Homo sapiens: one gene and its partners. The protein of the gene in region 7 purifies or fractionates together with the protein of the main gene of each other region. This does not show direct contact. Each region holds a gene or a part of one and is shown on either strand. Other genes may lie near its edges. The genes, in order: DNAJA3, TUBB6, CAD, AIFM1, MTMR2, MTM1 and MTMR11.

Region 1 (3,500 bases), on a different chromosome or scaffold from region 7:
GGAGGCTGAGGCAGAAGATCCACTTGAACCTGGGAGATGAAGTTTGCACTGAACAGAGATCACACCACTGCACTCCAGCCTGAGCAACAGAGCGAGACTCCACCTCAAAAAAAAAAAAAAAAAAATCTTACTTTATTAGAAAGTATAGGCCAGCCGTGGTGGCTCACGCTTGTAATCCCAGCACTTTGGAAGGCTAAGGTGGGTGGATCACCTGAGGTCAGGAATTCGAGACCAGCCTGCCAACATGGTGAAACCCCATCTCTACTAAAAATACAAAAATTACCTGGGTGTAGTGGCGCATGCCTGTAGTCCCAGCTACTCAGGAGGCTGAGGCAAGAGAATCGCTTGAACCTGGGAGGTGGAGGTTGCAGTGAGCTGAGATCATGCCACTGCACTCCAGACTGGGCAACAGAGCAAGACTCTCTTTCCAGAAAAAAAAAAGAAAAAAAAGGGAAGAGTAAATAATATAACAAGCATGTCATACCCACAACCCAGTGGAGGTAACAAAATATCACAGGCCGGGCGCAGTGGCTCATACCTGTAATCCCAGCACTTTGGGAGGCCAAGGTGGGTGGATCATTTGAGCCCTGGGGTTTGAGACCACCCTGGGCAACATGGTGAAACCTCATCTTTACTAAAGATACAAAAGTCAGCCGGGCCTGGTGGCGTGTGCCTGTAGTCCCAGCTACTCAGGAGGCTGAGGTGGGAGGATCACCTGAGCCCAGGGAGTCTGAGGCTACAGTGAGCCAAGACTGCCCCACTGCATTTCATCCTAGGCAACAAAGCAATACCCCACCTCAAAAAATAAAGTAAAATAAAATAAAACATCATAAACACCGGTGAGTCTTGCCCTCCTCAGCTAACCACAACCCTGACTTTAACATTTATCATTCCTACAAGCTTCTACTTACTATGTATTTCCGTGTCCCTAAATAATACATAATGCCATCTCACAGGTTTTAAAACTTTACACAGATGGTCTCTGAGGCCCTACAGCCACTGGCAAGCTGCCTTCCATCCCTGCTGTCTGTACCTGCAACGCCTGGAGCATCCCTTGAGTTCAGCTCTCATTCTTTCCTTCCGACTGCCCTGCAGCAGCCTCTGACCACCACGGCTCACTGAGCCATTCTCTTGTTGGAGGAAGGCAGTGTCTTGCTACCATGGACAGGACTCTTGTGCACCCCTTTGTACCTATCGCCTGCTAGGCTTGTGTGGGTTTTTCTCAGGTGTACACATAGGAGGGCAATTGCCAGTAGAAGGCATTGTCTTCATTAATGTTTCCACCATCTCAGAAAACCAAGGTTTGCCCCTGTATACAGTATGTAAAATTGTAACTTTCACACTCACTGCCTCATCAACAATCTTATCATAAAAACACAAGATGTTTCCTGTATTTTTATGTGACCTGTATTTCTAACTTGTTAGCATGTTGAAGAAGTTGTCTTCTCTCCACACAAGGCACAGAATCTTGAAGGTAACAAACAGCTAAAAACCACATCTAGGTGGCCACTGTGCCCCTCAGAAACATGAATGGCGAGACATGTTCCTGTGAAGCTTTGATTACATGGGAGCAGCCTCAGCCACACCCACCCGAAGAGAGGAAAGGCCCAACAGAAGCTGTGCGGGGCAGGGCACCTACCCTGAACGTAATGAAAATTTCCCTTTTTCCCACAGGCATCCTCACGGTCTGGCCATCCTCGACTCCTACAAGGGACATTAGAAAGGGAGAAGTTAGGCAGGACGCGGTGGCTCACGCCTGTAATCCCAGCACTTTGGGAGGCCGAGGCGGGCAGATCATGACGTCAAGAGATCGAGACCATCCTGGCCAACATGGTGAAACCTGGTCTCTACTAAAAATTAACTGGGCGTGGTGGCACACGCCTGTAGTCCCAGCTACTCAGGAGGCTGAGGAAAGAGAATCGCTTGAACCCAGGAGGCGGAGGTTGCAGTGAGCCGAGATCACTCCACTACACGCCAGCCTGGCAACAGAGCGAGACTCCGTCTTAAAAAAAAAAAAAAAAAGAAAAGAAAAAGAAAAAAAAGAAAGGGAGCAGTTATTGTGAGACCTCCCACAGCACTTTCCACCCAAGATCCACTTGTAACCCACAGCTTCTTCCCCACTCCTGTTTCTTATTAACGAGGAACAATGTCATTATCTAAGAGGCACATGGGTAACCTTCCAGAGATGCAACACAGACACCTGATGACTGAGCACCTGCCTCAGGCTTGGTCTAGGCAGTACCTCAGGGAGTTCATGGTCTCACTGGGGTGATGGGTGTTAACCAAACGATAGCACTAATGCATAACTACAAACAGAGACATGCTCTTCAATGGAAATGCTCACAACTCTAGAGAAACAGACATCTAAACAACAGTAAAGCAGGCCACGCGCGGTGGCTCATGACTATAATCTCAGCACTTTGGGAAGCCGAGGCGGGTGGATCACGAGGTCAGGAGATCGAGACCATCCTGGCTAACACGATGAAACCCCGTCTCTACTAAAAATACAAAAAATTAGCTGGGTGTGGTGGCAGGTGCCTGTAGTCCCAGCTCCTTGGGAGGCTGAGGCAGGAGAATGGCATGAGCCTGGGAGGCAGAGCTTGCAGTGGGCCGAGATCGGGCCACTGCGCTCCAGCCTGGGTGACAGAGCGAGACTCCGTCTCAAAAAAGAAAAAAAAAAGAACAGGGAGGAGGGTGTGAGGCTAGCTAGGGAAGGGATACTCAAGCTGGGATCTCCAAGATGAATAAAGTTAACCGAAAAAAGAAAGCAGAAAGTGAGTTTTGGGCAAGGGAACAGTAGACATGGAGTGAGGGGTGGGATCCGTGGGGCTGATGTAGATAGGGTGGCAGCAGGGACAATGATGGCTTCGGTGACTAAGACAGGGGAGAGAGGAGAGGAGCCCGGGGGTTGGAAGCTGCTCCCTCACCAGGAAGAAGCAGAGTAGGCACGTCAGGTCTCTTCTCCCCATTGTGACATGCAAAGTGTAAATTTTAAGGATAACTGGCAGAAACAGAAAGATTCAAGGAGACTCCAGTTCCTCCTCCAGCCTGGGGCTCCAGGGCCTCAACCATAACTTCTACCAAGAGCCCACTCACACTCAGTGCAGTGGCCTCGGCCCTGTCCACCCTCTCCACACGGTGTGGTAGCCTCAACCCTGTCTGCCCTCTCCAAGCTCCTGGACATGGCGGGCCCAAGCACCCACCTGCAGGCACAGGGATCATCACTCGCTTTTTCTGCTTGGCTTGTCCTGCTCCCCTGCAGACCACACAGGGCGATATGATGATGGAGCCGCGGCCACCACATCTCCTACACGTGGAACGCATCACAAAAGGGCCTGTGTTGATGGTTTCCTGATAAAAACAAGAAAAATGGTAACCTAAGTACGCAGGTAAACTGATGGGTGGTTCTGGGACCACAATGTGCGTAAGAAAAATGTCTCTTTAAGGCTTGTTTTTTATGTGCATGTGCACTCAAACACACTGCCTAGGAACCCAGGTGC
Region 2 (3,500 bases), on a different chromosome or scaffold from region 7:
AAATCTGCAGCCCAAAATTTCATGAAAATAAATATTTAAAACATTTTATTAAAAATTAAATTGACAAAGTCATATTAGAAATTAGTATTTCAATTTTCCCAACTCTAAGTATACTGGAATAAATTGCCTTAAAGTGAAAGAGTGAGAGTGTATTTAGTAAGTCTTGGTTAAGCCTTTTTGGTTTACATTCAGAAACAAGAAAAGAATGACTGATGTAAAATGTCATGACCTGCAAGTTAGGTCGTTTCCAATTCTGCTTTCTTCAACATTGAGTTGTTGGCCAGGTGCGGTGGCTCATGCCTGTAATCCCAGCACTTTGGGAGGCCGAGGTGGGCGGATCACTTGAGGTCAGGAGTTCAAGACCAGCCTGGCCAACGTGGTGAAACCCTCTCTCTACTAAAAAATACAAAAATTAGCCGGGTGTGGTGGCAGCACCTGTAATCCCAGCTTCTCGGGGGGCTGAAGCAGAATTGCTTGAACCCAGGAGGTGGAGGTTGCAGTGAGACAATACCGTGCCACTGCACTTTAGCCTGGGCAACAGAGTGAGACTCCATCTCAAAATAAATAAATAAATAAATAAACAAAATTGAGTTAAGTGACAGATGATTGAAAATACTTTTTTTTTTTTTTTTGAGACAGGGTCTTGCTCTGTCACCCAGGCTGGAGTGCTGTAGCACAATCTTGGCTCACTGCAACCTCCATCTTCTACGCTTAAGTGATCCTCCCACCTCAGCCTCCCGAGTAGCTGGGACTACAGGCATGCACTACCAGACCCAGCTAATTTTTGTATTTTTAGTAGAGATGGGGTTTTGCCATGTTGCCCAGGCTTGAAAATACTTTTTGATAATAGCTCACTATTTGATTTTTGGGATGTAACTCTGAAGACAATCAAAGAACTGAATGACATTGTAGAACATAATTCATTCCCATTTACATATATCTGTGGACAAGATTTCTCATATATGTAAAAATTAAGAGGAATAGAATTGATCCCAAGCCTTGGCCCTTTCTGGCAGTATTTAATATTCACCCTTGGATAAATGAATTAATAGGAAAAAAATAGATATAGATAGGTAGATAGATAACATTTAATACTTTGTAATCACAGGAAATTAAAAAGAATCAACTTCAACTGATTGGAATTATTTCTGATTTTTAATATATTCTATCAATACATTTAACAGAAGAAGAGTTTTTTAAAGTGATTATATTGTTTCCAGAAATTAAAATTATATCATATGCAACTATTTGACTTATGAAAAATAATAGATGTTAACTTTAAAATAAATGAGAGGTATCTAGTATCTAGTTTTTTCAAATGTTCATTAGCCAAGTGTAGTGGCATGTGCCTGTAGTCCCTGCTACTCAAGAGGTTGAAGTGGGAGAATCACTTAAGCCCAGGAGTTCAAAGCTGCAGTCAGCTAGGGTGGTGCCAGTGTACGCCACCCTGGGTGACAGAGCGAGACCTTGTCTCTAAATAAATAAATACAGATGTTCACAGCAATGTATGAAAGCCATTGCATTATATGAAACTCGTAGTGCCCAGAAAACCAAAAACAAAAATTAGTTCCTCCCACTCCTACGTGCATCTGTTCATATGGACATACAAACCTGTGTAATTTTTACAGCTGGGAAAAAAATGCTTCTGCTAGTGAAATAATCCATTTTAAAATGAGATAAAATGAAAAATAGGATTTTAAATTTAAGAGCCAATCTTTCAGATTCAATTTTTTTTAGGTAAAGTAAGATATACATAAGCCTGTCTGGCAAAAATGCACCATTATGGGGCTGGCCCGGTGGCTCACACCTGTAATCCCAGCACTTTGGGAGGCCGAAGTGGGTGGATCACGAAGTCAGGAGATTGAGACCATCCTGGCTAACATGGTGAAACCCCATCTCTACTAAAAAATACAAAAAATTAGCCAGGCGTGGTGGTGGGTGCCTGTAGTCACAGCTACTTGGGAGGCTGAGGCAGGAGAATGGTGTGAACCCGGGAGGCGGAGCTTGCAGTGAGCCGAGATCGCACCACTGCACCTCCAGCCTGGGTGGCAGAGCAAGACTCCGTCTCAAAAAAAAAAAGCACCATTATGCAGAAAACAGACTAGGTCTCTTTCTTGTTACTTGAACTCTGCATAAAATACAGAAGTCTTTCAGACATATTAAGCTCCTTTTCTCAACTGGCCTGGAAACAATTTGAGGGCAGGAATTACTTCCTGTGCTTAGTATTTAATTATAGGGGCAGAATAAATAATTGGTTCTGCAAACATTTTGCAACAGTAATTCTGGATGATGAATGAGGGGCTCCATTAACATGAAAAAGTGTCAAGTTTTAAAAATAAAATACTTGGGCCGGGCGCCGTGGCTCACGCCTGTAATCCCAGCACTTTGGGAGGCCGAGGCGGGCGGATCACAAGGTCAGGAGTTCGAGACTATCCTGGCTAACACGGTGAAACCCCGTCTCTACTAAAAATACAAAAATATTAGCCAGGAGTGGTGGCAGGCGCCTGTAGTCCCGGCTACACGGGAGGCTGAGGCAGGAGAATGGCGTGAACCCAGGAGGCGGAGCTTGCAATGAGCCGAGATTGCGCCACTGCACTCCAGCCTGGGCGACAGAGTGAGACTGCGTCTCCAAAAAAAAGAAAGAAAGAAAAGAAAATACTTATACATAGTACAGTATAAGATTCAGAAAGCCCAAAGGAGAGAACTTTTTTTTTTTTTTTGAGCTGTAGTCCCATTCTGACGCCCAAGCTGGAGTGCAGTGGCACCATCTCAGCACACTAGAACCTCCACCTCCCAGGTCCCAGGTTCAAGCAATTCTCCTGCCTCAGCCTCCCAAGTAGCTGGGACTACAGGCTCCCCACCACCACGCCCGGCTGATTTTTGTATTTTCAGTAGAGATGGGGTTTCCTCATGTTGCCCAGGCTGGTCTCTAACTCCTGACTTCAAGTGATCCACCCGCCTCGGCCTCCCAAAGTGCTGGGATTACAGGCATGAGCCACGGCGCCCGGCCAGTAACTTATTTTTTTAATGTATACCTTTTGTTCCCTTTGAATTCTACCATGTGCAAGAATTACCTCTTTAACATGGAACAACCAGGTCAAAATGTATATACATCTTTAAAATTGACCAGTAGCTACTTTGACTTGCCTAAAAACGTACCAGTGCATCTGCTCAGCTGCACCGTTGGTGGGTGCCTGTTTCCCCGGCCCCTCCCTTTGGCTAACAGCACATCATGGAATCACTTCACACCCTCCTTGTCGGTGACCAAGCATGGTGATGGCGCAGCCCTTTCCTGTTTAAACGGCACGGGACTCTCTTTGTTGCAGGCCAGACGGGTGCAGGGAACAACTGGGCGAAAGGGCACTACACGGAGGGCGCGGAGCTGGTGGACGCAGTGCTGGACGTGGTGCGGAAGGAGTGCGAGCACTGCGACTGCCTGCAGGGCTTCCAGCTCACGCACTCGCTGGGCGGCGGCACGGGCTCAGGCATGGGCACGCTGC
Region 3 (3,500 bases), on a different chromosome or scaffold from region 7:
GGGGCGCGGTAGCTCATGACTTGTAATCCCAGCACTTTGGAAGGCTGAGGTGGGGGGATCGCTTGAGCCCAGGAAGTTTGAGAGCAGCCTGGCAACATGGTGAGACGCTGTCACTACAAAAAATTCAAAAAATTAGCCAGGTGTGATGATCCACACCTGTGGTCCCAACTACTCAGGAGTCTGAGGTGGGAGAATCACTTGAGCCCAGGAGATTGAGGCTGTAGTGAACCGTGTATTTGTGCCACTGTACTCTGCACTCCAGCCTGGATAACAGCAAGACCCTGTCTCAAAAAAAAAAAAAAGGAATGGCTAGGTGCGATGGCTCACTCCTGTAATCCCAGCACTTTGGGAGGCTGAGGTGGGCAGATCACAAGGTCAGGAGATCTGAGACCATCCTGGCTAACATGGTGAAACCCCGTCTCTACTAAAAATACAAAAAATTAGCCGGGTGTGGTGGCGGGCGCCTGTAGTCCCAGCTACTCGGGAGGCTAAAGCAAGAGAATTGCTTGAATCCGGGAGGCAGAGGTTGCAGTGAGCTTAGATGTCGCCACTGCATTGCAGCCTGGGTGACAGAGTGAGACTCTGTCTCAAAAAAAATAAATAATAAATAAATAAAAAGGAAAATGTCATTTTCAGTGATCATCGGGGCACCCTGGGCCTGTGGGTTGTGTTTCGTATAGGAGAGAGCGTTGTTGGTAAATGGAAATACCTATGCAAAAGCACCAAAAGTTTGGTATATTGAAGGCCATTCAATGTGGCTGAATATAGGGTCTGTGGCCACACAATCGGGAAAATGCTGCAAAGAAATAACTTGGCCTGAGGCTTCTCACAATCTCTTTCCATCTACAGTGGTTTGAATCCTCGGGCATCCACGTAGCAGCACTGGTAGTGGGAGAGTGCTGTCCTACTCCCAGCCACTGGAGTGCCACCCGCACCCTGCATGAGTGGCTGCAGCAGCATGGCATCCCTGGCTTGCAAGGTATGGTGGCAAGCAGGGGCATATTTGGGCAGAGCACAGCATGCCTGGATGGAAAGAATCAAGGTTTCTGTAATCTGCTGGGACCTGACTCTAAGATTGTGATAGTTGGAAGGTTTAGATTGGAGTTGGGCTGGGAGAAAGAATTGAACTATCACTCAGAAAGAAAATTTCCAACACAGGAAGGAACTCCCACCTTCCATAATCATCAGCTTAGGGCTAATCTTATTTCATCACCACCACTGGATTATTTTGATGCAAATCTCAGACATCATATCATTTCATCTACAAATAGTTCAATATCTATGCAAAAGGAATCTTTAAAAAACATGATCATAATAACGTCATACACTAAAAAAATTAATAATTCCCTAATACAAGTGTCCAGGCAATGTTTAAAATTTCCCAATTTTTTTTTTTTTTTTTTTTTTTTTTTCTGTTCATTTGAATCTTGCTCTAAACAGGGTTCACACATTGCATTTGGTTGATAAGTCTCTTAATCTGTGGACCTTGTAACCTATTTGAAAACAGGTCATTTTTCCTGTATCTAGTATCCCATAGTCTGCACTTACTTGGTTACACTCCTGTAGTGTTACTTAGCGTATTCTTTTTTTCCCTTTATATTATTTTCTATAAATGGATAGATTTAGAGTTGTTCAATTCAGATGTGATATTTTTGGCAGGAATACTTCATGGTAGTATACTTCTGTCACAATGGCCCAGGATTTTGATGCACATAGAACAGCTGTGTGTGACTGGGGCTCTGGAATGGAAGTGCTTCTGGAAGTCTAACCTCACAGATGACTGAGTTGTAGGAATGTGATCCCTAAGACTGTGCTATTTTGACAGGAGTAGACACTCGGGAGCTGACCAAGAAGTTGCGGGAACAGGGGTCTCTGCTGGGGAAGCTGGTCCAGAATGGAACAGAACCTTCATCCCTGCCATTCTTGGACCCCAATGCCCGCCCCCTGGTACCAGAGGTCTCCATTAAGGTACAGAGGTAGAGTGGGAGAGTGTTGCAAGCTCTAGCACAGTAGTTATATTCTGCCCACAATTGGGGGGTGAACACAGGAGAGAATCAAAGGAGGCTTTGAAGGTAGGAGTTGGTGCAGGCATATCTTATACCCACTGAGCACAGCTGCCAACTGTTGCCCTTTATTCGTCTATTTCTCAGACTCCACGGGTATTCAATACAGGGGGTGCCCCTCGGATCCTTGCTTTGGACTGTGGCCTCAAGTATAATCAGATCCGATGCCTCTGCCAGCGTGGGGCTGAGGTCACTGTGGTACCCTGGGACCATGCACTAGACAGCCAAGGTGAGTAGCTGGGGCCTGTTCAGGGCCTCAGACAAGCAGCTTGGGTGGAAGATCTATCCCTTGGTCCAATTGCTAAAAGTCAGTAGGAGTTGCAGTGAAGAAGATAGACATTGGGACTTAACACTCTCATGGGCTGGGGGGGCTGCAGGTGTGTCTCCTGTAATTGAAATACTGATTTTGATGTCATCTTTTCTGCCCACTCCAGAGTATGAGGGTCTCTTCTTAAGTAATGGGCCTGGTGACCCTGCCTCCTATCCCAGTGTCGTATCCACACTGAGCCGTGTTTTATCTGAGCCTAATCCCCGACCTGTCTTTGGGATCTGCCTGGGACACCAGCTATTGGCCTTAGCCATTGGGGCCAAGACTTACAAGATGAGGTGGGACTTGTGGGGAGCAGAAGGGGCCCATACTTGTGGCATGAGGGGTGGGGTGTCTCAGGAATGAGAAGAGAGTTGGTGTTTATTCGTGTTGAAATAGGAGCGGGGGGGTTGCAGGTGAGGTGGCTCCCACCTGTAATCCCAGCACTTTGGGAGGCCAAGGTGGGCGGATCACTGGAGGTCAGGAGTTCGAGACCAGCCTGGCCAACATGGTGAAACTCTGTCTCTACTAAAAATACAAAAGTTGGCCAGCCATGGTGGCGTGCGCCTGTAATCCCAGCTACTCCAGAGGCTGAGGCAGGAGAATCGCTTGAACCTGGGAGGTGGAGGTTGCAGTGAGCGGAGATCGTGCCATTGCCCTCCAGCCCGGGAAACAGAGGGAGACTCCGTCTCAAAAAAAAAAAAAAAACAAAAAGGAAACAGGAGTGAGGCTACTGAGAACAGGAGATCGGTGAGAGCTGGGGTAGGTTCAGTAGTGAAGAGAGGGTGAGCAGGGCCTGTGACTCGGCATGCTTCTACCTCCAGATATGGGAACCGAGGCCATAACCAGCCCTGCTTGTTGGTGGGCTCTGGGCGCTGCTTTCTGACATCCCAGAACCATGGGTTTGCTGTGGAGACAGACTCACTGCCAGCAGACTGGGCTCCTCTCTTCACCAACGCCAATGATGGTTCCAATGAAGGCATTGTGCACAACAGCTTGCCTTTCTTCAGGTGAGCCTGGTTGACTGGGTCTGTGAAAATTTGAAGCCCTGTGGGCCTTGATGATGGAAAAGTAAAGCACGGCAGTGGATCCGAGTCCCCTGTCCCACTACCCACCTCGAGGCTGCCAGT
Region 4 (4,266 bases), on a different chromosome or scaffold from region 7:
GAACACCCTCCTGAGATTTGTAGATGAGGAAAATGAGGCACAATTAAGTGACTTGCCCAGGTGGCAGAGCCAGGATTCAATGTGGGTTGGTCTGGATCCAAGGTCAACATGTTTAACAATGAAAAATGTTATCTTTGGTCCGAAAGTATTCACCATCTGAAATATCAATCCTTTTCCTCTACTGTTTGAATTTTACTACTCATCCTTCAAGACACAACTCAAATAACTTCTTACACGAAGTTCTACCATAGTGATTCCATCCCATAGTCTTCTCTCTTGCTCTGTCCGGCACTACACCAGATATTATTTCAATGACCGGTATATGTCATCTCCCCAACTAGACAGTGGCCACTTCCTATATAGATGCTATGTCCAAATAAACCCATTGTAAACTGAAAATATCGTTAAGTCGAAACTGCATTTAATACCCTGATAAACCCATCATAAAGTCAAAAAACCGTAAGTTGAACCATGCTTAAGTCCAGATGCTCCTCGACTGACATGGGGTTAGGTCTCATTAAACCCATCATAAAGTCGAAAAATTGTAAGTCGAACCATTGTGAGGGGTAAGTCGGGGACCATCCGTACTTTTCATACCCAACAGAGCCCCTTTTATAGTACAATCCAAGAGGTAAGTGCTCAATAAATACTTGTTAAATGAATATGTAAGCTGAATCTTTGAAACAGGCACATTGTATGTTCTGCATGCAGCCAAAACATTATTTCCAATTTAGCTTATATCTGGCAGAGTCAAAACACTTATTTACACTCAGCCCCTCACCCTACTCCCATAACTGAAAGTTCTGCTTAGCAGACTTCTCTTCCCAGAAAGTCCGAGAAGCACGAACGCTTTTTGCTAACATCCTGCTCCCAAGCACAGAAACCACAGCAGGAGACTGTGTGTATCTGTAGCACCTGGTATACAGCATCTAGGACACACAACTGAACTAATAAATAAAGGTGACAGGCGGGAAGAAGAGCGCAGAATTACTTGTCCAGGAAACGGGTTGGGTGGGAAAGAGCCGGCAACTGGTAAAAGATGGAAGTACACGCCGGATCTGGGAAGCCAGGTTCCGCGCCTCGGACTCATGGAAAAACTGGATCTGGATCACTGCAAAAGAATCAGGAAGGCTTCGGTATCAAGTAACTGGTGTCCTAAAACCAAAAAACAAAGTGCGATGCCGGGGCTACGCTGTTGTGAGATGCTGTTATCAGTTCTCGTCACCAACACAGCGGCAGCACCAGGCACAACCGCCAATCAAAGCGGCCCCACGAGTCCCTCCTTGAACAGGTTCCTTAACTCGTTCAGTCCAACACTGTGCCACAAACTCGCGAAAACCGGCTACCTAGAGCCAGCGTCTTTGCGAGCTTGCGGCCAGCTAGTGCATGCGCAAATCCTCTCGCCGTGCGGACCAATCGCAATGCGGCAGCGAGTGCTACGCCTGCGCAGTAGGCCTCCGGTCGCCGTTCCCCTTCCCCGGCTCTAGCAGGCCGGCTTCTCTGTCCAATGCCCACCCGGAGCTGGGAGGAGGAGTCTGCGTAATGTGCGTGTGAAGAGACTGGGGGAGCTGGCCGGGGCTCACGGTGTTTGACCCGTCGGTCGTGCGTGAGAGGAAAGGGAAGGAGGAGGTCCCGAATAGCGGTCGCCGAAATGTTCCGGTGTGGAGGCCTGGCGGCGGGTGCTTTGAAGCAGAAGCTGGTGCCCTTGGTGCGGACCGTGTGCGTCCGAAGCCCGAGGCAGAGGAACCGGCTCCCAGGTGACTGACCCATTCCAGGCAACCTCCAAGTCCGAGGGCCTGGCGCCTTAGGCTCCCTGTGCCTTGCAGCCCTCTACCCCCGCGTCCCCGCGAGAAACTTAACACATAGTCACGTGAATTCCAAATTGGCAGACTCCGAACCCTGAGTCTTGCAAGCGGAGGAATTGGCTCAGCCATGCCGACCTGACCTTCAAGAGATTTGAACCCAGTAGTCGGCTTGAGGCCTTTTCCCGGGAGCGTTTGCTGTTCAGGGATCCCAGAACAACTGGCTGTCGGCGCCTCCCCGGCATCCCCACCCCCCACCCCCCTTTTTAGAGCAATGAGGTCAAGTAGACTTTGTCATTTACCGATTGAGACTTTAAACAGGACGTTTAAGCCCTACGCCTAAGTTTCTTGTGTAAATGAGGGTGTTATCTGCTCAGCCTTCCAAACCACAGATGAGATCCATGGATTTGAATGCCCAGTGAAACAGAAACGGTGCAGGGCAAGTAAGGAGTCGGTTGGTTGTGTACCAGACACCCAGAGAATTGGCCCAGACTTAATTGGAGATGCCTGAGCCGTGTACTTCTTGGTGGTCTTTAAGGCTTCAAAGAAACAGTTTGCAGAACGCATTGTATTTTGTTCTCCATTAAGTTGTTTCATCAAATTTTAGAGCTGGAAGGGATTTTGTGGTAAAGGTCAACCCACTCATTTTATAGATAATAAACTGAGGCACAGAGAGGTGAAATTACTTGCCAAAGGTCACATAGTTAATTAATAGGTAGAGCTAAGGATAGTTTGCTAGCCTCCAGGTCCTTAATCCCTTCGCTGCAACTCCATACTGCTTCCTAAAGTTGACCTCAAAAAGTTAAGAATGAATTCGGGTCTCTTCCCAGTAATTAGCCCATTGTACATCAGATATCCGTGAATTTATCTGAGCATGGCTTGAGCCTGCTTCTTTTCGTACTGCGTTACTTCATGGGGGCAATGAATGATCCACCTGTAGGAGTTGCTTTGAAAAAAAAATCAGTAATCCTTCAATGTCCACCCCTAGGGCATTTGCAATGTCAGAAGTTATCCTTGAGGCTTTTACAATACAGAAACACCTGGGTGCTTTAAAAATAAAAAGTGGAAAATATTTTCCTTGGGTTGTTAGGGTCTTTGCAAATGTGCATTTGAACAGTTTTTCCAGTTGCTATGCACAATGAAAATGTTTCCTGATAGGTGTATTTGAGTTATGTCCTGGGACATACTGCTCTTGGAACTTAAAACCTCTGCTTAGCTTTTAAACTAATGCCTTATCAATGGATGTCATCTTTGAGGGTTTTGTGTATTGAAATGATGGTGCTCTGTGCTTGTTGCACAGAAATTGAGATAACCTGAATTTTTTTTTTTTTTTTTTTTGAGACGGAGTCTCGCTTTGTCGCCCAGGCTGGAGTGCAGTGGCGCGATCTCGGCTCACTGCAATCTCCGCCTCCCGGATTCACGCCATTCTTCTGCCTCAGCCTCCAGAGTAGCTGGGACTACAGGCACCCGCCACCACGCCCGGCTAATTTTTTTTTTTTTTTTTTTGTATTTTTAGTAGAGACAAGGTTTCACCATGTTAACCAGGATGGTCTCGATCTCCTGACCTCGTGATCCGCCCACCTCGGCCTCCCAAAGCGCTGGGATTACAGGCGTGAGCCACCGCGCCCGGCGATAACCTGAATTTTTTCATCCACACTGGCCTTTCAAACTTTGAGTAGTTGTTTTGCTTAAGTCTCACAACTTTTACCAGCATTCTAAAGTCTGACCAAAAGTTCTCATCAATTAAATATGCATTTGCAAAGTTAAGTTGATTTATTAGACATTGGAAAGTGGTTGGTGTTGTTAGAACTACTGAAAAATACAGACTCAAATGGTTTTTTCCACTGCATGTCTTTGTTTGAAGGCAGTCTACTGTAGAATATATTCGGACTTCCTGACATATCCATCCATCTCTTTGCATACACTTGTTCTTTGTCCTTTGGCCGTGCACCAAAGTATGACATCATCTGCCTTTAAAAATGGGTGAGGGTAGTGTTAAATTTTCAAAAAGAAGTTCTGATACTCTCATTTTAGGAATTAACTCTGTTTTGTGGCTTGATTCCTAACTGCTTTTAATCTGATTTCTTTTTCATGTAGTAGCATCTACCGTGTGTTTTTGCACAGGTGGGAAAGAGCAAGGTTCGTTTATACACCATTTCTCCCTCCACCTTACCTTTAAACTTTTTTTTTTTTTTTTTTTTGAGGCGGAGTCTCGCTCAGTTTCCCAGAGTGCAGTGGCACGATCTTGGCTCACTGCAACCTCTGCCTGCTGGGTTCAAGCAATTCTCCTGCGTCAGCCTCCCAAGTAGCTGGGACTACAGGCATGCACCACCACGCCGGGCTAATTTTTTGTATTTTTAGTAGAGACGGGGTTTCACCATGCTGGCCAGGCTGGTCTCAAACTCCTGACCTTGTGATCCACCTGCTTCAGCCTCCCAAACCTTTAAACTTTAAACCTGCCTTG
Region 5 (3,500 bases), on a different chromosome or scaffold from region 7:
AAGTGAAATGATATAAACGTGGGAGTCTAACACTGTCTAAAGCACATAGTGGGAACTCAGGGTTTGCCTACCCTTACCTCCCTCCCAAATTGCTAGTGTTAACTGGCTCCCAATTAAAAAGGAGATTACAAATCCTAATGAAGACAACAGGTAACTTTTCATCATGGAAACACCCTGAATAGCAAGATCATATAATCATAAAATGTTAGTGCTGGAATGGACCTCAGAAATCAGCTAGTCCAGCTTCCTTTATTTCATACCTAAAGAAATTGATCTAAGAGACTAAGTTACACTTACACTATACATCTGGTTAAATGTCAAAGCAGGGATGTAAATGTAGAGATTCTAGACAGCCTAGACAAGTTTCTTTATACGACATCAATAATTATAGCACAAATTTTCCAAAGACAGGAAACATTTTACCAGGTTATTAGAGACAGGAAATGCATATTTCATTAGATTCTCAAATATGGATCTTCTTGTCCGCCCCTCAGGTTTATGAGCAAATCGTAAATTCCTAATATCCTAGAAAAGATTTAGGAACCAAGTTAATAATTGTTCACTACTTACTTAAATGAATAAATAAGGTTACTTGGAACTATCTTGTAAAATGTTAAGATCTGTGAATGTGGGATACAAAAATAAATCAGACATCAGCTCCTGGAGACAGGGAAATTATAATGGTTTATTGGGAAAAACTGAAAGAAACACAAGGTACTCTACTATGAAGCAGAATTCAGAGGGCAGGAAATTTACCTATGCTTATGGACTCAAAATAGGCCAGTGAAAGAGGTAGTATTTGATGTAACCACTGGAGATTAACGATATTACATCTGAAGATTAATATCATGACTGATACAAACTATCAGCATATGTGCTTTCCCTGTGAAAGCCCATTTTCTGTCATAAATTTCTTTATTTATAAAACCTGATTAGTAGTTGTTACATTTCATACGTGTCTTCAGTTCATTATATCTGGTGATTATTTTCCTACTAACTATCCCTTCCCAGGGTTCATTTGCATTGGACCTTCTCTTCCTAAGTCCCCTGCTACTAGTAGACTTGATAGAACTAAACCCTGCCTGAAAGTGTTCCTTCCTTCACTCCATAACCACATTCTTCCACCATCTACTGACACATAACTCTGAATAGTTTAGTTTATATTATCCAGGCTCTACAGTAAGGTCTAAAGACCAAGTTTCCCTTCCATTTGTCCCTAAGCAGTTTTCTATGCTCAGACTGAATGCAGTTATTCATGTTCCGGTTTACTGGTATCTTAACAGCACTTAGAAAAAAACTGGGGATTAAGATAATTTCAAGGGCCAGGCACAGTGGCTCATGCCTGTTATTCCAACACTTTGGGTGGACAAAGCAAGAGGGACACTTGAGGTGTTCTACTTCTAAAACAGTGGTGGGGAAAAATTGGTATTGTAGACTTTTCCTATGTTCTTATCTACCGACATTCTTTAAATGCATTGATTGATACTTGAATGAAACATGAATTGTTACAAGTTCAAGGCCAGCCTGGGCAACATAGTGAGACCTTGTCTCTACAAAAAATTTTTTAAAAAAAATTTATAAGAAAAGAATAATTTTAAGACTGATCATTTTATTTAAATGTTTTTACCTAGGCAGAATTCAAAATAGCTTTATTATGCCTCATTTTGTAGAACCACACACAAAGCCTCTCCACTACAGTGTACCCACAATACATAAGTAAGACAGTATATGATCCAAAACTAGAATGCTGGCTTTACTATCTTTTAAAATAAACATGTGCGGGAACCTAAGCTGATATCTTGTTTTCCCTCAGTAAATATCTTTATAACTAGGTGAGATACTCAGAATCATTCTGTTAACCACAGAGTTCTCTGAAAGTACCATGTCAGGGGCCCTACAAATATTTTTGTTTATTGATAACGATCCTGTTCCATGGAAAGAAATTATATTTAAAATGATTAAGATTCAAAATTATCTTCTTTCACATCGTCTTATATTCTATGCACTACTTACTCTTAAACTACAGAAAAGTGATCAGGAAACAGTGTGCTTGACACATGGTTGCCAGCGATTACACTCACAGAGCCCTTCTGACTATAATGGAAAACCACAGGCCAGGCACAGTGGCTCACACCTGTAATCTCAACACTTTGGGAGGCCAAGGCGGGCAGATCACTTGAGGCCAGGAGTTCAACACCAACCTGGCCAATGTGGTGAAACCCATCTCTACCAAAAATACAAAAATTAGCCAGGCATGGTGGCATATGCCTGTAATCCCAGCTACTGAGGAGGCTGAGGTAGGAGAATCACTTGAACCCGGGAGGCAGAGGCTGCAGTAAGCCAAGATCACGCCACTGCACTCCAGCCTAAGCAACAGAGCCAGACTCTTGTCTCAAAAAAAAAGAAAACTACAAAAATAATTACTAAGTCATTAGCTTTAATACCAGAGTCACAAAACTTCTAAGATTAGCATAACAAAGTATCTTGAATTATACACATGCTGTTTCTTTTGGCACTGGCAGAATAAAAAGAAAGGAACAATGTGATGTAGAATCTCAATGTGCATGGGTGTTAGTTAATTAGGCCTTAATAACAGTGACCTGGAGAAGTGGTACGTAGAATTAAATACCTATGACTTAATGGTAAAAATGTAACAATCTATGTTTCATTCAAGTATCAACGCATTTAAAGAATGCCAGTAAATAAGAACATAAGAAAAGTCTACAATATCAACTTTTCCACACTATTGTTTTAGAAGTAGAAAAACTGGCCGGGCACGGTGGCTCACGCCTGTAATCCCAGCACTTTGAGAGGCCGAGATGGGCAGATCACGAGGTCAGGAGATTGGGACCATCCTGGCTAACATGGTGAAACCCCATCTCTACTAAAAATACAAAAAAAAATTAGCTGGGCGTGGTGGTGGGCGCCTGTAGTCCCAGCTACTCGAGAGGCTGAGGCAGGAGAATCCCGTGAACCCAGGAGACGGAGCTTGCAGTGAGCTGAGATTGTGCCAGCCTGGGCAACAGAGCGAGACTCCGTCTCAAAAAAAAAAAAAAAGAAAAATTATGAGAACTAGAAACAGAAAAGATAGGTGATGATGAATATAACATATTTAGTTATTTAGTTCTTCCACTACGAAGTAGTGGAACTGCTCAGAGCCTTATGTTGCTAATTTGTAAATTAAAGGTAGTAATGTCTATTGTGCCTACCTCACAGGATTTTTATAAGGCTCAAAGTGAAATCATCAATGTGGAACTATGTGGTATCCTATCAGTACTATGTGCATTAAAGATGGTTATTATTATTATTATTATTATTATTATTATTATTATTTCAGACAGAGTCTTACTCTGTTGCCCAAGCTGGAGTGCAGTGGCACTATCTTGGCTCACTGCAACATCCGCCTCCCAGGTTCAAGCAATTCTCCTGCCTCAGCCTCCCCAATAGCTGAGATTACAGGTGCCCGCCACCACGCCTGGTTAATTTTTGTATTTTTAGTA
Region 6 (4,214 bases), on a different chromosome or scaffold from region 7:
TAAAGTCACACAGATAATATTAGGTCCAGGATTCAAATTGGGGCAGGCTGCCCAATCCAGAGTCAAAATCTTCTAGGCAAATGACGGTCCCTATCCCCCACATCTGCCAAAAAGGAAATAAAGAACTAGAAAACTAGAAAATAATGAAAGCAGAACTTCAAAGAGGTCGAAAACAGGAAAGGAAAATTACTAAAGAATAATGAAAACAATCTATTATTCTGTTACAAAATCGAATAAACTTTAGAAATGAGAAACTCCAGCCTTTGAAATCCTCTGGTTACCCCTTTAAAATGTCACCTATTAATCGTTGAGAGTCTCCACTTTTCTCTTTATTTTGGAGCCCTCAATAAGAGCAAGAACCATGTGTTTTCAGTGGTTTCTAAGTAACTACATTTTGTTAATCTGCCTCTCATTTTGGAACAAAAAATATTAAAGTATTTTTTGTAACTTTAATTATTTTTCAGACCTGTAAAAGTTTAAAATTTTGCTTTGAAGCCATTGAACATACAGAATATGAGAGAACTTAGAAGGTATTAAACAGATGAACTTTTACAGTCAACTCTCATTAATGCCATTTTATTAGCGAGCACTCTTGTTCCTAAGAATGAGTGCTTCTTTTCTCTTGAGCTATTTCAAAATGAACTAGTTTCTTTACAAACCACACAAGGACTGATGATCATTTCAGATAAGAGGTTCACAGTACAAACCATTGCACAGGAAGAGAAACCCTTGTGCAAGGTAGCCTGAGAGTCCAGCAGACACCGGCATGAAATCAACAACCAATATTGACCTCAGCAGAGCTTTCTGTAGCTACAGTCAGCTATCTAACTATGAAAACAGCAAAGGATTTGAAAAATACCTCTCTAGGTATTTGAAATCACTTACTGTTTGCATGTCGGGGTGGGGGGAAATGTGAGTAAAAATGAGGCTGGGATGAGCTTACCATCTAAAAGACACTCATTGGAGAAATGATGACTCCAAAAAATCTCTTTGATTCAGAGATTTACTTTTGGATTTATTTCCTTTACTGGAGCAGCAGCTGGCAATCTAAAACTAGAAATTCAAAGTAATGCCCAAGTCATTCTCAATCATGCCAGCCTGTTTCACTGTCATTGTAAGGTTTCAGAGCTCTATTTTTTCTCATAGCGCTCATCTCTGCCAGAAAATATATCATTGTTTATTTTTTTATTGTGTGCCTCCCCACATATAAACTCTATAAGGCAGGGACCTCAGCAGTGGGGCTCTTTGCTGTCTTCCCAGTGCCCACCGTTGGCATTCTTGTGTTTGATGAATGAATGAAACCATCGACAACTTAATAAATGTAGTTAGAACTTTAAGTTAAAGAGACCAATCATTTACTAACTACACTAGAATCTACAAGCCCCCCGTGAATGTTATCCACCCTCAAGCACCCGGGAGGGTACTATACACTGGTGCTGCAGGCAGCACCACTGGTTCAAATCTCCCCCATGGTGTGGAATCTCTGAAAAGTAGATTTGATTTTGTGAAGCAGCCAAAAGCCATTCAGAATCAAATCTGGTGAATACATGATCGTGCCCAATATATATGTTGGATGAAGGCAAACGTGTCTGCAAAGTAACAGGCCTGATTGTCTTATTTGGTTGGTAAACCGATTTTGAAGGAAATTCAAAATGGTTTGCAGTCTAGCAAAATTGCTGGCTCAGTCTCAAGACTCTAAGGTGCTTATTTCACAAGGAATAATACTGAGCTGTGGTAAAAAGAATCCAGACTAGACAGACACCAAGATACCCCCAAAGAGCTGGCTTGTGATATTAGCTTTGCCATTAAGTTGCCCTGAAGCCCGGGACATATTAGTTACCCTCTCTGGGCCTCAGTTCCCCCATCCAGGAAACAAATGAACAATGTAAACTTCAGGATGCCAGTCAATTCTAAAATGCTATAATTTTATTCTTGTGAAGATCTGGTGTATCTGTTTCAAAACCAGTCGCAACCCACTTCGCCTCAAACGATGCGTGCGTCTATAAAGCTCTAATATAATTTTTGCAGCAGATTCACTTCTTACTTGCTTAGGCAAATACTAAAATTAGTTTTCACTTCCTGAGCGCAGCAAAAGACAGTTAAGGGAGGCAACCCGGCCACGGGCGCTTGCTCGTGCCTGTACATACTTCCGACTGCGTATCAGGGAACTAACCGTTCCCTCTAAGATCTTCCCTCAACTGTTGCAAAAGCAGATAAACCTCTCGTGTATGACACAGAAACACTGGCCGAGAGCGGCCATCGAGGCTTCGCGGCCAGTGCCGGGCTGCGGCCGCTCCGCAGGGCCCACCGGGGATGCGACGGACGCCCGCTCCGTGCGGAGGGCCAAGGCGAGGACCAGCCGCGGAGCGTCGCCGGGGAGGCAGGGCGGACGCCCGGCCCACTCACCGCCCCGGGACGGGGAAGCAAAGTCCAGGCAGTGGCTGAGACGTCCGCCCCCAGCTCCACGGCCAGCCAACCCCTACCCCCGTCCCGACCTTCGCCCGCCGCCGGCCGGCCACCTTGGGCGGGGAGAACGGGAGGAAGCCGGAGGTACCTGCCTGCTGCTCCCTGGCCTCAGCCCTGCCCCGCGGGGACAGCGACGGCGCTTGGACGAAACCCCCACCCAACCCTGACGGTGCGGCAAGGCCCCGCGCGACCCGCTGGCCCAAGGAGTCCCAACTTCCTCCTCCCGATCCCCTCACCACGGGTCCCCGCAGTGCCCGGCTCCGAGCCAGGCCAGCCGTGAGCGCGCACCCACCTCGGGCTCCGGGCGCCACCGCCGTTGCCAGGCTGCTCGGCTGCCGGGCCCTGCTCCGCCCCCTCTGGGGTCCGCCCCCCACGGCCTGCCCGCCCCCGGCCACCGCCCGCTGCCCGCCTCCCCGTGCCGGTTGGCGGGACTGCATCACGTGACGGGGCAGGGGGCAGGAAGAGTGCGCCGGGTCGACCTGGGGAGCAGCTCCGAAGGGCGGGGCTCTTCGCCCGAGAGGCTGCTGGGAAGCCCATTTTGAAGGGTCCGACGCATGGAGGCAGCTGGGAATTGTAGTTCGCAATATGGTGCTGGGGATGGGCGGGGCCAAGATGCCAGGGGCCATCCCTGTAAGGGAAGTTGGACTGGGCGCCGGGCGGAGGCGGCTGGGAAGCGTAGTCCCGGGACCCTTGTCTGGGTCTCCCCATTTTTCTTCAGTAAAGGGGAAATCCAGAGGGAAAACTTCTCTATACAAGACTTTAGCGGATGCCACTAAATTGAGCTATTATTGGGTACACAGGGTTGGCTGCGTAAAGTTGAGATAGTATAAGGGAAAAAGAAATTTCACTGACTCTGGGGCAGGATCTGCAATTCACAAACTCAACTAACAGCTGGGGTGTCCCTCAGCTGTGCCAGCACCTTTCCAAGAACGCAATTGAGACTTAGTGAACGGAAACATTTCAGTCCAAAATTCCTTCTACTTGTTGAGGTTTGGGTCAGACAACTATTGATACAGTAAAAAGAAAGGGACAGGAAAAAGAGAAGAAAGGCAAACTTCAAGAAGAGAATTCATTGTGTAATCAAATAAAACAAACAATCTGGGCCGGGCGCGGTGGCTCACGCCTGTAATCCTAGCACTTTGGGAGGCCAACGCAGGCGGATCACCTGAGGTCAGGAGTTCGAGACCAGCCTGGACGACATGGTGAAACCTCGTCTCTACTAAAAATACAAAAATTATCCAGGCGTGGTGGCAGGTGTCTGTAATACCAGCTGCTCGGGAAGCTGAGGCAAGAGAATCGCTTGAACCCGGGAGGGAGAGGTTGCAGTGAGCTGAGATGGCACCACTGCACTCCAGCCTGTGTGACAAAGCGAGACTGCGTGTCAAAAAAATTAAAAAAAGAAAAGACAACCTGGCACATAGAAAAATGAGCATAATATTCTTTGTACTGCATAATACTTATACGCGAGCAGTTCGAGTAAATAGGATGACTTTATCATGACCTGTTTTTTTTCTCTTGTATGTGTTAGTTCTCCAGCATCTAAAAACAGCATTTTACCTGATACCAGTGTATATGTGTACGTGTGTTTCTACATAGTCACACACATATACACATATATTCATATATCATTTATATATGCATATATATATGCTTTATTGAAGAGTCTAGACTTCTTAGAAGAGTAACAAAGCCATCCAGAATCCAACCCAACCCACTCTTTAGCCACTTCTCCCAGTGTGCCTCTTTTT
Region 7 (3,975 bases):
TTTGTGGGTGTCCTAGGAGGCTGGAGTTTGTGGGAAGTCCTAGCTTTAGAGGATCAAGGAACTAAGGGAAGATTGGGAGAGCAGCAGGGTTGGGGTGCACTGGGGGATCACCTGGTGGCTACGTCGAACCTCTCGTTGACCGTGCTGACCCTCCAGCCTCTGGCTGCCTGCTTCTTCCGCTCAGTCTCCCAGTCTTCCGCTGTCTCCATGAGAGGAATTGGTGGTTTTCTGGAGCCAGAACCCTGGCCTAGAACAGGAGTGAGACATAGAGGAGGAAGGAGAAAATCAGAGACAGCTTCTCAGCTCTTTGTCATCAGCCATCCTCTGCTTTTTCAGACTCTTCCTTACCCTAAAGCACTCTCACTCACCAGCCTTGCTCAGGGTTATCCCCGAATACTGTTGGGCTTGATTGCTCTGAGCTCTGGCTTGGACAATGGCCATGGTCACCTGCAGAGGAAAGGACATTCCATCCTTTTGGCTTAGGCTGAGTAAGTGAAAAGAAGGAAATGGAGCCCATGTGTTGCTCCACTCTCTTTGCCAAGAATGAAGAAGAACAGTGAAGACAGTCCCTAGAGAAGGGGGCTTCCTCAGGTCATGGGGACTGGGGTCGGGAGAACAAATCTGGAACCACAGAATCCTAGAATGATGATTCTGGGAGGAATCCTGGTTTTTCAGAGGAGGAAACTTGCCCACAGTCACACTGCTGGTAATTAATAGAGTAAGGCTAGAGCGCAGGCTCTTTACTCTCATCACGCAATCATTTATCCCAGCCTTTTAGCCTTTCCTTGAGAGAAGCAGGGGGAATGATGAGAGGATCCCAGGGGCTGGAGGAGTCTCAGAAATTGTCAGGGAGAGGATCCCAAGGTTCTGAGGTGAGGAGAAAGCCTCAGGTTAGGGGCCTCTTACCTGAAAAGCCTGAGGCTCTAGGCCTCCAGCCTCAAAACCAACTCTGAGCAGCCGGAAGTCTCGGCCATGAATCAGAATCTCCTCAGGGATAAATTTATGCAGGGACCCTGGACGGAGGAGCTGGACTCGGGACAAGCCGCTCACTGAAGTCAAGAGGTACAGAACAGTGTAACCATGGACCAGAGTCTCTCCAGAAGGGACTCTTGCAGCCCATCCCACTCCATCCCTGCTGTTTTCTGAGAACAGAGGAAGGATGAGGAGGGAGTTCCAACAACCCCAGTGAACCCCTTCACCAAACCCCCCCCCAACTTACCAGCCTCTAATCGTCCAATGTTGACCAGGGCAAAATCGTATTCACTGTTCAAGGGAGTGTCCTAGACGAAACACGTGACTGGGTAGACATCTGAAATCGCCCTCATTTTCCTACCCTGGCAGCCCCAACCCCTTCTAGGGGGCAACAACCCTAGAGAGAGTTCCCACTGATTATCAATGATACATTCAAAAGACAGCCCTTAACCCATAATGTTTGTCTAAATCCTGCTAGACTCCCCTACCCATTTCCCACTAGCTGTCATTTCTGTGGCCCCAACCATCTCACCTGATTCCACTGCCATCCACAGGGCTGGAAGGTGACCCTAAAGTTGGTACAGATCAGGGTTCCAGACAATTCTGGTTCCAGGCCCTTCCTCACCCCTGGGGCCCATGCTAGGATCTGCTCCCCTAAAGGGGAAGAAGGGAAGCCCTGTTATGACTGTTCCCAGTGTTGCCCACACTTGGATACACCCACCCCTCCAAGAAAGGGAGATCTAAATAGGGAAGATTAAAATCCTCCCCAAAGCCCACTACAATGTAAGCTTATGAGGAAAGATAAATGTTTTTTAATTTCTGTAACTAGAACAGAGCCTAGAACAAGGCCTGGCACATAGCAGGCACTAACTATGTATCGAATAAGTAAATTTGAAAAGGGGTAACAGGGTCAAGGAAACAGAAGGAATGTCAAGGTCCAGCTCTCAGCCAGCTCTAGAGGCTGTCAGGGAGGACAGCGAGCCTCAGGCAGACGTACTTCGAGCCACGAGAGGAACACAGGGGTATCTTTGGTGAGGGCATGAAACAAGATTGGCGTAGGATGAAATTTGGAAGTCTTTGGAGAGTGATAGGGCATTATTACCTGGGAGGCATCTGGAGGCCAGGCAACTGCTAGGCTGACGACTCCTGGGCTCCGGCATCCTATTTTCCTGGACAGACTTTGGTCCAGAGGGTTGAGGGGGGTCTAGAGTTAACCCCTAGGCTCCCCAACTCCCCAGAGGCAGCTGCCTGTAGAGGCCTACACTCACACTCTCGGGGGAAACTGAGATCAGTGTCTGTGGGGAGCTCCAGACCTAACAGGGCTGGTAAACAGTAAAGGGAGGGGCTGGTTAATGGATAATGAGACAACGAACTTGAGACTGAGAAAGACGGACCAGGCTCCATCAGCAGAAGCTGATAGACAGACACACCCTCCTCCTCCTCCTCTAGAGCCTTTGCTTCCCCCTTTTATCTCCACCTCATCCCCGTTCTCACCCTCTTGCCGACACCCCCCAAATTCCTTCTCCTTACCCCCATCTCTGGCTCCTCCTTCTGGGGGGCAATGTTGAAACTCTGGCCCCGGCCCCCCCACCACATTTCTCTGGCTCCATCCGGGGACACAGCAGTTAAGGGTGGGAAACCTCAAGGATGCTCACCCACCTCGGGGAGAGGCTGAGTCTTGTTGAGAAGAGGGGTGTTAGGGAGAGGGGTAGGGGGTTGGACACAAGGGAAAGGAGCATTTGACGTGCACGGAGCAGAGTTTGGGGGTCCTTGGAAAGGTGTGTCCAGCCCAGCCTGAGAAGTCTCCTCGGAAACTTCAGTCGACTCTGGAGAGGGCGGGAGAGATGCCCAACCCCTTAAAGGAGAATACACACAATTCTGGAAAAGTGGAGAGGAAACGGTGGAGTCTGAGACGGACGGGTGGGGAAGAAATGGGGACTGAGAGAAAAACGACTCCCTTCTTTACCCCAATCCCAGACCCTGTTCTCTTCCTGTTCATGAGTACTGGAGACCGTTTGAGGGGAGCAGTTCTATTGATTATGAAGCTGGAATCATCTGGGCTACCTGTCTGGAGTGTCTCAGTGATGACTTCCCTTAAAAGCTCCGTTCTTTTGTCTTCTCAAAGGGGTTTGGGGCGGGGAGAGGGGTAGGAATGTGAAAGTGGTTCAAGCCTCCTTGCCGCCTCTTCCAGAAGAAAATGAAAATTAGACCTGGGGGGATTTTTGTCAGCAGAGGCCCAAGAATTAGGTGAGGAAGCAGGGAAACTGGTTAAAGTGGTTTTGCATATCTTTCTCTAGAGGGCATGACACAGACATCATGTGAAGACTGCAGTGGAGAAGTATAAAAAGAGATGGAAATGTGTCCAAGATGCAGACACAAGTACAGTTTGTGTGCAAGTCTTGGGGATGTGGGTGGGACAAAAAGATCTTACCAGTTAATCTTGCCCATCACGTAGATACACAACCAATAGGCAATAAGTGCCCATTCCCGTATGTGACTCCACCCCTCCAACCCAGACACCAGATCTCCAAATGAATGATTCATGTTCAGGACTTTCACAGGTGAGGGCTGGAAACCTCTCTTCAGCTCAGCAGTCCATCCCCCGTCCCTCCCATCTGCAACCCTAGAAGCAAAGATGGGTAAGGAAAGCTGGGAACAAGGAGAGAAGGAGCTGCAGCTCCTTTAAAGGAGGGGGACTTGGGGACAGCAAAGCAAAAATCTTTATTTAGACATGAAAAAGACAGAAAATAAAATACAAAATAAGAGTTAATGAGCTGCTGTTTTATTGCTTTTGAATCTACAGAGGCAGCAATCCTTAGATGGGGGCCCCAGTTTTCCAAAGTGACACTCAATTTTCCCCTCCCCCCAGTACACCACCCTTCTGGCCTCAGCTTTCAGTTTCCTGTCTTGGCTGCAACTGTGGAAATAGTGAAGATATTGTGAGACAGAAAGTCAGTCTGGAACAAAGAGGTATACACCTGCTAAGAAGGTGGCCCAGAAGCC

What was found.
Region 1: the proteins of MTMR11 (region 7) and DNAJA3 purify together in Homo sapiens (affinity purification with mass spectrometry; one large-scale study listed by BioGRID and IntAct). This does not show direct contact.
Region 2: the proteins of MTMR11 (region 7) and TUBB6 purify together in Homo sapiens (affinity purification with mass spectrometry; one large-scale study listed by BioGRID and IntAct). This does not show direct contact.
Region 3: the proteins of MTMR11 (region 7) and CAD purify together in Homo sapiens (affinity purification with mass spectrometry; one large-scale study listed by BioGRID and IntAct). This does not show direct contact.
Region 4: the proteins of MTMR11 (region 7) and AIFM1 purify together in Homo sapiens (affinity purification with mass spectrometry; one large-scale study listed by BioGRID and IntAct). This does not show direct contact.
Region 5: the proteins of MTMR11 (region 7) and MTMR2 purify together in Homo sapiens (affinity purification with mass spectrometry; 2 studies listed by BioGRID and IntAct, with this or other methods). This does not show direct contact.
Region 6: the proteins of MTMR11 (region 7) and MTM1 purify together in Homo sapiens (affinity purification with mass spectrometry; 2 studies listed by BioGRID and IntAct, with this or other methods). This does not show direct contact.

Annotation. Positions count from the first base shown.
Region 1 is NC_000016.10:4,442,868-4,446,367, reverse strand, and holds part of DNAJA3 (dnaJ homolog subfamily A member 3, mitochondrial), read right to left. Parts: intron 3,352-3,500; coding exon 3,204-3,351; intron 1,705-3,203; coding exon 1,640-1,704; intron 1-1,639. UniProt on the Homo sapiens protein: Modulates apoptotic signal transduction or effector structures within the mitochondrial matrix. Affect cytochrome C release from the mitochondria and caspase 3 activation, but not caspase 8 activation.
Region 2 is NC_000018.10:12,321,741-12,325,240, forward strand, and holds part of TUBB6 (tubulin beta-6 chain), read left to right. Parts: intron 1-3,068; exon of another isoform or gene 3,069-3,326; coding exon 3,327-3,500. UniProt on the Homo sapiens protein: Tubulin is the major constituent of microtubules, a cylinder consisting of laterally associated linear protofilaments composed of alpha- and beta-tubulin heterodimers.
Region 3 is NC_000002.12:27,220,369-27,223,868, forward strand, and holds part of CAD (multifunctional protein CAD), read left to right. Parts: intron 1-849; coding exon 850-979; intron 980-1,825; coding exon 1,826-1,968; intron 1,969-2,150; coding exon 2,151-2,292; intron 2,293-2,497; coding exon 2,498-2,669; intron 2,670-3,194; coding exon 3,195-3,380; intron 3,381-3,500. UniProt on the Homo sapiens protein: Multifunctional protein that encodes the first 3 enzymatic activities of the de novo pyrimidine pathway: carbamoylphosphate synthetase (CPSase; EC 6.3.5.5), aspartate transcarbamylase (ATCase; EC 2.1.3.2) and dihydroorotase (DHOase; EC 3.5.2.3).
Region 4 is NC_000023.11:130,163,042-130,167,307, reverse strand, and holds the start of AIFM1 (apoptosis-inducing factor 1, mitochondrial isoform AIF precursor), read left to right. Parts: upstream 1-1,466; 5' UTR 1,467-1,651; coding exon 1,652-1,757; intron 1,758-4,266. UniProt on the Homo sapiens protein: Functions both as NADH oxidoreductase and as regulator of apoptosis.
Region 5 is NC_000011.10:95,858,108-95,861,607, forward strand, and holds part of MTMR2 (phosphatidylinositol-3,5-bisphosphate 3-phosphatase MTMR2), read right to left. Parts: intron 526-3,500; coding exon 424-525; intron 1-423. UniProt on the Homo sapiens protein: Lipid phosphatase that specifically dephosphorylates the D-3 position of phosphatidylinositol 3-phosphate and phosphatidylinositol 3,5-bisphosphate, generating phosphatidylinositol and phosphatidylinositol 5-phosphate.
Region 6 is NC_000023.11:150,567,207-150,571,420, reverse strand, and holds the start of MTM1 (myotubularin), read right to left. Parts: upstream 2,801-4,214; 5' UTR 2,759-2,800; exon of another isoform or gene 2,703-2,758; intron 1-2,702. UniProt on the Homo sapiens protein: Lipid phosphatase which dephosphorylates phosphatidylinositol 3-monophosphate (PI3P) and phosphatidylinositol 3,5-bisphosphate (PI(3,5)P2). Has also been shown to dephosphorylate phosphotyrosine- and phosphoserine-containing peptides.
Region 7 is NC_000001.11:149,934,080-149,938,054, forward strand, and holds the start of MTMR11 (myotubularin-related protein 11), read right to left. Parts: upstream 2,801-3,975; 5' UTR 2,583-2,800; coding exon of another isoform or gene 2,569-2,582; coding exon 2,503-2,568; exon of another isoform or gene 2,151-2,502; coding exon 2,075-2,150; intron 1,627-2,074; coding exon 1,505-1,626; intron 1,281-1,504; coding exon 1,220-1,280; intron 1,050-1,219; coding exon 907-1,049; intron 448-906; coding exon 369-447; intron 248-368; coding exon 112-247; intron 1-111.